Linked DNA regions of Homo sapiens: region 2 is linked to region 1. The links come from fine-mapping of genetic effects on gene expression. Tissue or cell type: gastroesophageal junction. Region 1 holds a variant in brackets; the other region holds the start of a gene. All regions are shown on one strand. Distances are from middle to middle.

Region 1 (5,147 bases):
GGTTCAGAGCCAGGACACTGCCTCTGCAGCCTCAGTGCAGCTCTGCACTTGGGACCTTTCTCCCCACAACTAAGCCTGGCAACATCAGGCAGCAGACCCCAGCTCACAGCCCTCCTTGACCCACCAGCAGCCTCTGTGCGGCTGCTGGGAATCTGCAGGGGCTCTGAGCCTCCCATCTGAAACTGATGGGACAAGGGGCCATCTGTGGACAATAGGAGCTTCTCATAAGTTTAGGGATTCCAAGACCAGTCTCCCAGAGCAGGGGTGTGGACTCTCTCCGAACATATGCTGGTTAGATGCAAAAAGATTGTTTTCCTCTAGCGGAGCAGTGAGAAAGATGTAGAGGGGACATTTTGGAGAAGAGGGACTTCTGTCCATACTGTGCCAATTAGCAACAGAAGCCCCACTGGCCCTCCCCAGCAGGTGGGATTACGCGATGGGATTCCTCTTAAGTACACTGATGGCAGAGCCTGCTTCTCCAGAGCAGAAGGGCTGCATTCATGCCTGCATTCATTTCTTTATCCAACTTTTACCGAATGCTTACCAGATTAGAGCTAGGTGATGTGTCTCTGGCTTCGAGGAGCTCCCAGTCTCGAGGAGGACAAGGCTGATTGAGGTGTGGTAGCCCTCACGGGCATGAGAGCCCAGATGAGGCGAGATTAATTGGTTTTTCTGGCCATTCTCCCAGCAGAGCTTTCCAGGCCCCACCCCAAGGCCTTAGGAGATAACAGATGTGAGGTCAAGTCACAGCTGGAAGCAGCAGGCTTGCTCCCAACTGCCAAGTCCTAGAGAGGCTTGTTAATCTGTGCTCCCCAGGGCTGGCAGGAGGCTCCCCAGTGTCCCTGAATTGTCCACTCTGTGTTAATTGCTTTCTGTAATCTGTGTGCTCCCTCTCTTCCTCCTGCTGCTGTCTGCCTGTCCAACTGGTTGCTTCATTCTCAGTTTCCCATTCCGCCCCTCCAGTGGGATCCAGGTGGTTGGGGTTCTGTAGACTTGACTTTAGCACATGGAGGATACAGACGGTGTTTGATTTTAGCTGGGTATGGGTTTTGTCCTCTCCCTTCTGCCTCACCTCCACACTGGGGTTTCATGCTAGAGCTGGGTGCCACACCTTCTTTTCAGGAAACCTGGCTGTGAGTTCCTGGCTCTGCCATTAAAACCCTATCGCCTCAGTTTCCTCACCTACAAAAGGAGGGGTTTTCTAGAACAGTCATTCTCCCTGTGTGTTCCTTGCACCAGCAGCAGCAGCATCACTTGGGGACTTTTTGAAATGCAGATTCTCGAGTCTCACCCCAGAGGGAGAATCAGGATCTCTGTGGCTGGGGGCCAGCAGCCAGGGTTTCTGCATGGCTTCTGGGTGGTTCTGATGCAGCTCAGGTTTGAAGACCACTACTGTTGCACATCTCTGAGGCCCCCCTTCCAACTGCACTTCCTTCTATGGCTGGTCTCAGCATTTTCCAACTTGCGGTAAGTAACCAGTGACTTGCAAAGATCCAGTAACCACATTCTGGAGCACTGCCAGCTATTTTGCAGGTATCATAAAATTCTCCAAATTGAAAAAAAAAATAAATTTCAAAAACCCAACCCCAACAAAACTCACTACTTATGTCCTGATTTTTCCAGAAAGGGATTCAAGGTAGTTTACATCCCCATTAATTTCAGTGGCTCTCTTCTCCCAGTCCCTGTCAGGAGGAGGCTGCAGAGGTATGTGTGCAATCCAGTGACCAATACAGGGCGTCCGTCCATAGCACACACCATGGCCACCTGAGAACCTCTGCTGCCCCAGCAGCATAAACACTCCTGCCCTTTCCGAGCCTCTGGGGAGAGTGGTGCCTCAGTGATTTTCATGAGGGCTCTATCCCCAAGGAGCAGAATGCCCAAACATCTCTCTCCTGCTGCTGGCATTTAGCCCATTGCTGAGTTAATTCAAGCAGTGCTAATAACCAGTTTGAGGGAGAGGACCTCTTGCAGACCCCTAAATCCTACTCAGTGGGGTGCTGATAGCAGGATAAGAATCCTGCCTGCCCACCTGCAGCCATTCAAAAACAGCATGTAAAAGGCCCGCCACTGGCTGGATTCTGTGGAGATACCAACAGAAGTAGAACTTTTGTCCCTGTCCTTTGTGAACCCACTTATGGGGGGGACAAGACTGCATCTTCAATGTTTAGTAGATTCCCCCCTCCACCTGCAT[T/G]TTTCCCTTCCCAGGACTTTACCCTCTCCAATCTCTCTCTCTCTCTCTCCCCTGCCTTCCCGGCATCACTTTACTGGAGGTCCTCAAACCCCAGCCCATCTGGCTCCATGGGGTTAAGTGCAGCATCCCTTTTTCCGCCGGTTCTGTGAGGGCCCAGCCCCAGCTGAGACCTTTCCTGGCCTTTCTCTGGTCTCCAAGGAGCCTGCAAGAAATGCAGCCTGAGAAAACAGCCTCCCTTCCCTTCCCCCACCTCTCTGTTCTTCTTCCCCACAATCCCGGGCCCCACACAAGCTCCCCAAGGCCTGCTAGCTCACGGCCGGGCCCTCCTAAACTCATGTTTTATGCAGGAACATCCCCATTCTCATGGAAAGTGCAGCAAAGTTTGGGAAAGAATTTCAAACCTCTTTTGAAGATGGTAGAGCAAATGCAGGGTTATAGGGTTAACTTCAGCTGAGAGTTTTTTCTTGGCTGAGTGGACACCCCCTTGGCAAATGAGTGCATGTTTGTATGTGTGTGTGTGTGTGTCTGTGTGTGTGTTCCTTTCTACCCACCATTTGCATTGCAGGGAAGTAGAGGGAAGACCAGCACACTTACACACCACACACACACACACACACACACACACACACAAATATGCTCTGGGCCTGCCTCATCTCCCAGTGCCCCCTCCTGCCTCTCTTGCCTTATGAGGAGCAACAGGAGTGACTTATCTTGGATTTAAACATTCTTTGGATGCACAGGGAAAAGAGATCATTTGTTTTTCAAATATTAGAAGGAAAATGAAAATTTGTATGCAACTTTGGTTTTGGTGATTTTTCAGAAGATCTCATGTCTCTTTGTTTCAAAATGTCAAAAATGGTTGTATATAATTGATTTAATAAACATGTAACTAGCTTTTTGGGTATATCAAATTGTATGTTGCAGTTTGCTCTGCTAATAATTTCAAGTTTCCCATTATCAAAGCACCTGTCCTTTCAGAAGTCTCGCATCCACTTTCTTCTGACACTTTTTAATAAGTAGGCAAAGGCTTGAACAGAAGAATCCATCTACAACACACTTAGAGTAAGACAAAGGACAGTATTATGCTTTCTGGACTTGGTGTTGGCAAGAAACAGAAAAGCACTTATTTTCAGAAAAGGAATTGTGAAAAGAAAGGAGAGGGAAACCTTTAAATCTCATTGAACACAATTTACTCCATAGAATTTTATCTAATCAGCCCCATTCTTTGAGCCATCACCTTGAGTCATTTTTGATTCTACTAACACTTCATTTTTATCATCTTCCCAGAGTCCTGAAAACTGAAGATTTGCCTAAATTGGGACAAGCTTCTCTCTCTTTTCACATGTTAATTTATTTCTTGATTTGGACTATGTTTTTCCAAATATGGCTCCATTTCTTTTCACATGTAGTAGAAGACGGAAGGGGCAGATTGGAACCATAGGCTGGCGTGGCCACCCTGTTGGGGGATGGGATTTGCTTGGGAGATCCCCTAGCTTTCTCCGAGCTCACACCTCCTCCCGCAAGATTCCAGCTATCTGCAGCAGTGAGCAGCTGGGCACTGGGGTTTGGGAGCTTTCTGGGGGTAGATCTATCAAATGCTGTGGCCATTCCCCTTTTACCTCTTCATAGATGTGCCTCCAAATCCTAGATCCAGTACTTTCACAGAAGCTGGAGTTGCTGGGGACAACATTTTTCTCATTTTTCTTTTTCTTTCTTTTTTTTTTTTAAGAGACACTGTATCACCCAGGCTGGAGTGCAGTGGTGCAATCATAGTTCACTGCAGTCTCCAACTCCTGGGCTCAAGGGATCCTCCTGTTTCAGCTAGGACAGAGTAGCTAGAACTACAGGCAAGTGCAACCTGCTGGGCTAATTTCTTAAAAAAAATTTTTTTAATTTAGAGACAGGGTCTTGCTATATTGCCCAGGCTGGTCTTGAACTCCTGGCTAGAAGCAATCCTCCTGCCTTGGCCTCTCAAAGTGCTGGGATTACAGGTGTGAGCCACTGTGCCTGGCCATTTTTCATTACAGTAATCCATTTTTAATTCCTCTGTACTTATAAGTGGAAATGTACTTGGATTCTCAGGAACAATTGATTTTTCTGTAGGTCATTTGGAAAGGAATGTCAAACAAGTTGCATCATTATATGCAGACGAAAAGATTGATGTAGCTTTTTTAACTTAAAATCTTATGGTGTAATTTTTAGGAATGGTTGGGGAACATAAAAATACCCTATCCTAGACACTTTATTCATTCTAAAAAGTTTTAGGATCCAGAAACGTATTTGAAATCGTGTATTTCAAAGAAGTCTTTGGGAGAAACAGGGGGAAATTATTTTTTTCCCCTGTGATTTTTCTGGGCCTTTACATTTTCAGTTGTGTCCCTGGGGAATTGCCTGTGTCAGACAAATTTAGAATAAAATCTAATTTCCTCTTTCCTTCTCTGAAGCTTTCTTTTTAATTACTTTTTTTTAAGTAGAACTTTTTTTCAATTTAAATTTTCCTTCAGATTCAGGGGATACATGTGCATGCTTGTTACATGGGTATATTGTGTACTGGTGGGGATTGGGCTTCTAGCGTACCCATTACCCAAATAGCAAACATTGTACCCAATGGGTAACCTTTGTCGTTATTCTTAATGAAAACTATTTGTGATGTGCCCAGGATTCTGCTGTGGGTTTTTGTTGGAGCAGAGGAGCCCCAGAGGGAGAGAGAGCAAAGAGACAAAGACATGGGCCCAAACAGAAGCCACAGACGGACGTGAAGAGGCATGGGCATATTGGCAGCCCCCGACTGACAAGCGACAGCAAAGGGGGGTTTTAGTGGCAAACCCAGATGCTCTCCTTCTGAGGCCACCCCTGCTGCCCAGAATGGGAGTGATAGGGTTAGTGGGAGGACCTCCAAACACTTTGCCAGGCTTCTTCATTAGCTGTGGGATTGGGGAGGTGAGGCAGACAGACC
Region 2 (5,147 bases), 460 kb before region 1:
GTCCATCCTCCCTTTCTTAGACATCCTTCCCTGCTAGACCCAGGTTTGACTTCCAGGCCCTTGTTTGGCCCTCACAGTGGGAAGTGACACCCCCTCTCTCTGAATGCCCGAGGTGCTGTTTGCACTTCTATTGAACCCAGAACTTTGCTCTGACCTAGAGATAGTGGCTAGCTCTTCTCCGTCACTGACTTGTTCGACTTGTTCCCGGTCTAGAGTTTGGTCATCTCTCTATCCTGGTAGCAACTAGCACAATGCTTTGTACATTGAGGGTTCTCTAGAATTTTTATTGACTAAATTCATGTTTTTTTTTACAACTTGGCTAATAGTGGAATACTCAAAGGCTGGATTACCCAAGGGTTAGTTTATTCTGACCTCTTGGAATTTTTCTCCTCCCAATTTGTAACTCTGGCAAGGTTTATCTTCCAGTCTGCAGAGATGACCAGCAGAGAGAGACAAAGAAGGAAGCTCACTTAGACCTCTAGGCTCCCTGTCAGAAGCTCTGGGGAGAGAGTTGGAGGATGAAGAAGGGGAAAGTAAAAGCTGTTTACCCCCAGGCTGGGTAGGAGTGTGGTCTCCCACCTCTCCAGGGTTTAGACTGTCAGAACTCCAGCAGGACAGCTTGGGGGCAAAGGGAATTGGGTAGACACATCATTCTACAGGCCTACGTCCTTTTTGCCTAGCAGTCGAATCCTTCTCTCCATTCCTGCCTCTTGTGGCTGGTGCTGTGTATCTAGCCATTTTCCCCTTCCCCTGCTTCCCCCCAAGTGGGCACGCCAGCTTGCTCAGGTGCCCATCCTTCCTGCTAACACCTTGTTAGGTTAGGGAGGCAGTCTGGCGCTGACGAAGGACCTTTGGGTGCCAAGTTAGTAGACCTGTGTGACCTATAGCAAGTTGAATAAGCTCCCAGAGCCTCAGTTTCTGCATCTATAAGCTGGGAATAGCTACACGGTCTCTGTCCTCTGTCTCATCCTAGGATTACTGACGGGAACCAAGTGAGATTTATGAGACTTTACGAACAGGCAAAGAGCGCTTTATAAAAGCCAGGTGTTTCCAGTGTTCACTGTGGGGCTTTCTCCTGGTAACTACCCACCAAAGCCTCCCTGTCCGCCCCGCCCCGGCTGCATCGGCCTCACCCACTGCATCACCATCTTTTCCATCACTGTCTTCCTGCGTCTCAGAAGTCCTGTTTCTGCATCTCCCCTGTCCATTTCCGGGTCTGGCTCTCCGGCCCCTGAGACCCCTCCAGGGACTCTGTTCTCCTTCTCCTTGAGGCACTCGCTGCCCAGGCGCCCCCCACCCGGTGCGCCCTCCTTTGGCACAGCCGCCGGGCCAGAGAATCGCCCAATAAGAGCGCCGGACTGTAGTCTGACAGCTCCGGAAGCGGCCAATCGAGCCGGGCCAGGGAAGGGGGGCGCAGCGCCGGGGCTGAAGTTGGGTTAAATGGGGGGAGGGGGATTAAAGGGGGATACAAAAGAGGGGAGCTAGGACTGGGGGCGCTGGAGCCCTGGCCGGGGGCGGGGGAAGACCGCGCTCCACCCAGGTCTGGTGACGGGACCGCAGGCTGGATGCGGCTCCTAGTCCCAGGGAGGGAGGGGCGCAGCGAGAATTTTAGGTGAGGAAGGGGAACTGGGGTGCCCGCGGCCAGGCCTGAGGATGCCCGCGGGGCGCCGAGGCTGGGGCCATGGCCAGGCCGGGGGCGGAGGCGGCCTCGCGCGGCTGTGAGCCGAGGCCCGGGCGGCGCGGGGGGCGGGGAGGCAGCGGGAGGAGGGGATGCGGAGGGCTCTCCGGCGGCGGCGAGCGGGCGAGAAGGGAGGAGCGGCGCGAGCGGCCGGAGCGGCGCAGGGCCCGAAGCGTGCATGGCGCGCCCTGAGCCGGGCTCCCGCGGGCCCCCCCGGAGCGCCTCTCGGGCGCCGCGGCTCTCAGGCGGGCCCCTCTGGGCCGGCTGCTTCTGAGCCCCGGCGCTGGATCTCTGGATGCCTTACTCCCCGGGAGAAGCCTGCCTGCGTCGGGGCAGAACCGCGGCAGCGCTGCGCCGGATTCCGTCCTCCGCCTAGTCGTTCCGCGCCGGCCGCGGTGGGCCCGCAGCCGGCGACGAGGAGCTTGGGGCTTGCGAAGCGGGCGCGACAGCTCTCCGGGCCGGCAGGTCCCGGCCGGCCCCGCTCCGTTTGCGGGAAAGGGAGAGGCGAGAGGGGAAGGGCCGCACCGCAGGAGCCGGTCCCTGACCCGGACCCCGCCCCCTGCGCGGACGCGCCGAAGGCTCGGCTCGGCTTTCGCCGGGGCCACGCATCCACTCTCGCCGCGAGAGGTGGGGGATGCGGGCAACGGCCCCCCCGGGCTCCAGGACCCTCCCCCCCGGGGCTCCGGAGCTGTTGCTCCGCCCGTCGCCCCCTCCCCCGTCCTCTCCACCTCCCATCCCACCTCCCCACCCCTCGTAAGAAAATAATGCTGGCTGGCGCCCGCACCTCCCAGTCGCTCCCAGTCCGCTGCGAGGAAAGCGCACCCGCAGTGTCTCTTCGCCGGGACCCCCGCCGAGCCGCCCTCGCCGCCGCCGAGCCCCGAGAGCAGCTGGGCTCCGCTTAGGCGGAATCAGCGAGCGCCGCGCCCGGGCACTGCCGGCCCGAGGAGGCACCGCCCGCAAGGACACCACTCCGTCCCGTCTCGTCCGCAACTCCGGCCCTCGTCGAGCTCGACGCGAGCCAGGATCCCGGACGTCTCTCCGCGTGCGGCGCAGCAGCAGCCAGACCAGTCCCTGCGACCCCACCTCGGAGGCAACTCCATTTCGGACCTGGGACTTCTGACGCGGATCCTCAGCTACTTCTCACCTCGGGGCTGTGCCCTCCTCCTCCGCTCAGGACGGGGGTGCCAAGATGCCCCGCTGCAGCGCAGGGCCCCGGGCCGCCCCCGACGTGTGACCCTAGCCTGGTCCCCCTGCTCGGCCGTCCGCCCTCCCCTTGGAGACCCCCGGCCCGGCTTCCGGGGGAGGAGGAAGGAGACGACGAGGCCGAGGGGGGGATGTCCGGCTCCAAAAGCGTGAGCCCCCCGGGCTACGCGGCGCAGAAGACTGCGGCGCCGGCGCCCCGGGGAGGCCCCGAACACCGCTCTGCGTGGGGCGAGGCCGATTCCCGCGCGAATGGCTACCCCCATGCCCCCGGGGGCTCTGCCCGCGGCTCCACCAAGAAACCCGGGGGGGCGGTGACCCCGCAGCAGCAGCAGCGCCTGGCCAGCCGCTGGCGCAGCGACGACGACGACGATCCTCCGCTGAGCGGTGACGACCCCCTGGCCGGGGGCTTCGGCTTCAGCTTCCGCTCCAAGTCCGCCTGGCAGGAGCGCGGCGGCGACGACTGCGGTCGCGGCAGCCGCCGGCAGCGGCGGGGCGCGGCCAGCGGGGGCAGCACCCGGGCGCCCCCTGCGGGCGGCGGCGGCGGCTCGGCGGCGGCGGCTGCCTCGGCGGGCGGGACGGAGGTGCGCCCTCGCTCGGTGGAGGTGGGTCTGGAGGAGCGGCGGGGCAAGGGGCGCGCGGCCGACGAGCTGGAGGCCGGCGCCGTCGAGGGCGGCGAGGGGTCCGGGGATGGCGGCAGCTCGGCGGACTCGGGCTCGGGCGCGGGGCCCGGCGCGGTGCTGTCCCTGGGCGCCTGCTGCCTGGCGTTGCTGCAGATATTCCGCTCCAAGAAGTTCCCGTCGGACAAACTGGAGCGGCTGTACCAGCGCTACTTCTTCCGCCTGAACCAGAGCAGCCTCACCATGCTCATGGCCGTGCTGGTGCTCGTGTGCCTGGTCATGTTGGCCTTCCACGCGGCGCGGCCCCCGCTCCAGCTGCCCTACCTGGCCGTGCTGGCGGCCGCCGTCGGCGTGATCCTCATCATGGCTGTGCTTTGCAACCGCGCCGCCTTCCACCAGGACCACATGGGCCTGGCCTGCTATGCGCTCATCGCCGTGGTGCTGGCCGTCCAGGTGGTGGGCCTGCTGCTGCCGCAGCCACGCAGCGCCTCTGAGGGCATCTGGTGGACCGTGTTCTTCATCTACACCATCTACACGCTGCTGCCCGTGCGCATGCGGGCCGCAGTGCTCAGCGGGGTGCTCCTGTCCGCCCTCCACCTGGCCATCGCCCTGCGCACCAACGCCCAGGACCAGTTCCTGCTGAAGCAGGTAGGGGCCGACCTGGCCACCGGGACTGGATTGCGGGGCGGGCAGGCCTCAGCTGGACTCCAAAGAAAGGGATCCCACCCTCACCCTTTCGAATGGTGAAAAGAGCCAGAGAGACAGGGCTCGGCCATGTAGGCTATTTGGGAGCTTCTTACCCCACTCTGAGCCCCAGCGGCTTCATTTACAAAAAGAGTGCCCTTGTGTCGTTTGCAGTGTTCCTTGCCCCTTAGATAACGTGTACTGAACTGTAGCCATCACTGTGGGAATGCAGTGAGGAAGGTTGGAGGAGAAAATTATAAGGAGTGTTTCCCATCTCTTCCTGAGCTTCTGTTCCTATATACAAAAGGCCCCTAACGAAAGTGGCTGGACCCTCTAGCAGCCACCCCCTCGTGAGTGCCACTGCTGCTTTGTTAATCCAGCCCTGGATAGAGGGTTGGTGAGGGGACACCCTGCACCCCTTGCTCAGTGGTAAGGAGGAGGTAGCATGAGCCTGCCACCTGTCTAAGGCTGGGGATTTGGTAGCTGGAGATATCCCTGAACTTGCAGAAGGACTGACAAGTTTGTTTCAGTTAGCAGAGCGCCCCAAGCCAAAAACCTGCCCTTCGCTAAAGTGGGAAGGAGCCTCCGAGATGTGTGTGGTGGCAATTCCCCTTCCGGCCTGAGCAGAAAGCTGTTGTTGAACATCATGACCCCTTCAAGTGGGTGCCCCTGGTCATTGCTTGTGGTAGGGACATTTTATCCCTGCTGGGATTTGTTGGGTGAGTCTAGAACTGCAGGTTCAGGAAGAAATACAACTTTTGCCTGGTTAGCTGGTGACTCTCTTAAAGGCTTCTGTGAGAGGGGCATGTTGGCTATCCTGACCTCAGGGTGAGAGGAGCCCCCCTGCCATCCATACCATATCTCCCTTTAGTGTCCTGTGGTCTGGTTTCCTGGTCCTCATCCATGATTGCTTCTGAACCTGCTTGTTTGCATGCTGCTCCACTGTGAGAGTCCACTGGGCCCTT

The links. PIP is the estimated chance that this variant, and not a neighbour inherited with it, causes the effect.
Region 2: it holds the start of ADCY5, and the variant in region 1 is fine-mapped to the expression of ADCY5 in gastroesophageal junction (GTEx, PIP above 0.99).

The regions. Positions count from the first base shown.
Region 1 is chr3:122,984,268-122,989,414 of GRCh38, reverse strand. The region is part of intron 1 of SEMA5B (semaphorin 5B); the gene reads left to right. Among named protein-coding and RNA genes, the nearest start is that of SEMA5B, 41 kb to the left of the region's middle. The variant T/G (reference allele first, on the strand shown) is at 2,192.
Region 2 is chr3:123,446,411-123,451,557 of GRCh38, reverse strand. It overlaps ADCY5 (adenylate cyclase 5), which reads left to right and starts at 2,468. Exons shown (of 21, transcript NM_183357.3): 1 at 2,468-4,146. The coding sequence starts at 3,013. RefSeq lists an enhancer at 3,407-4,306.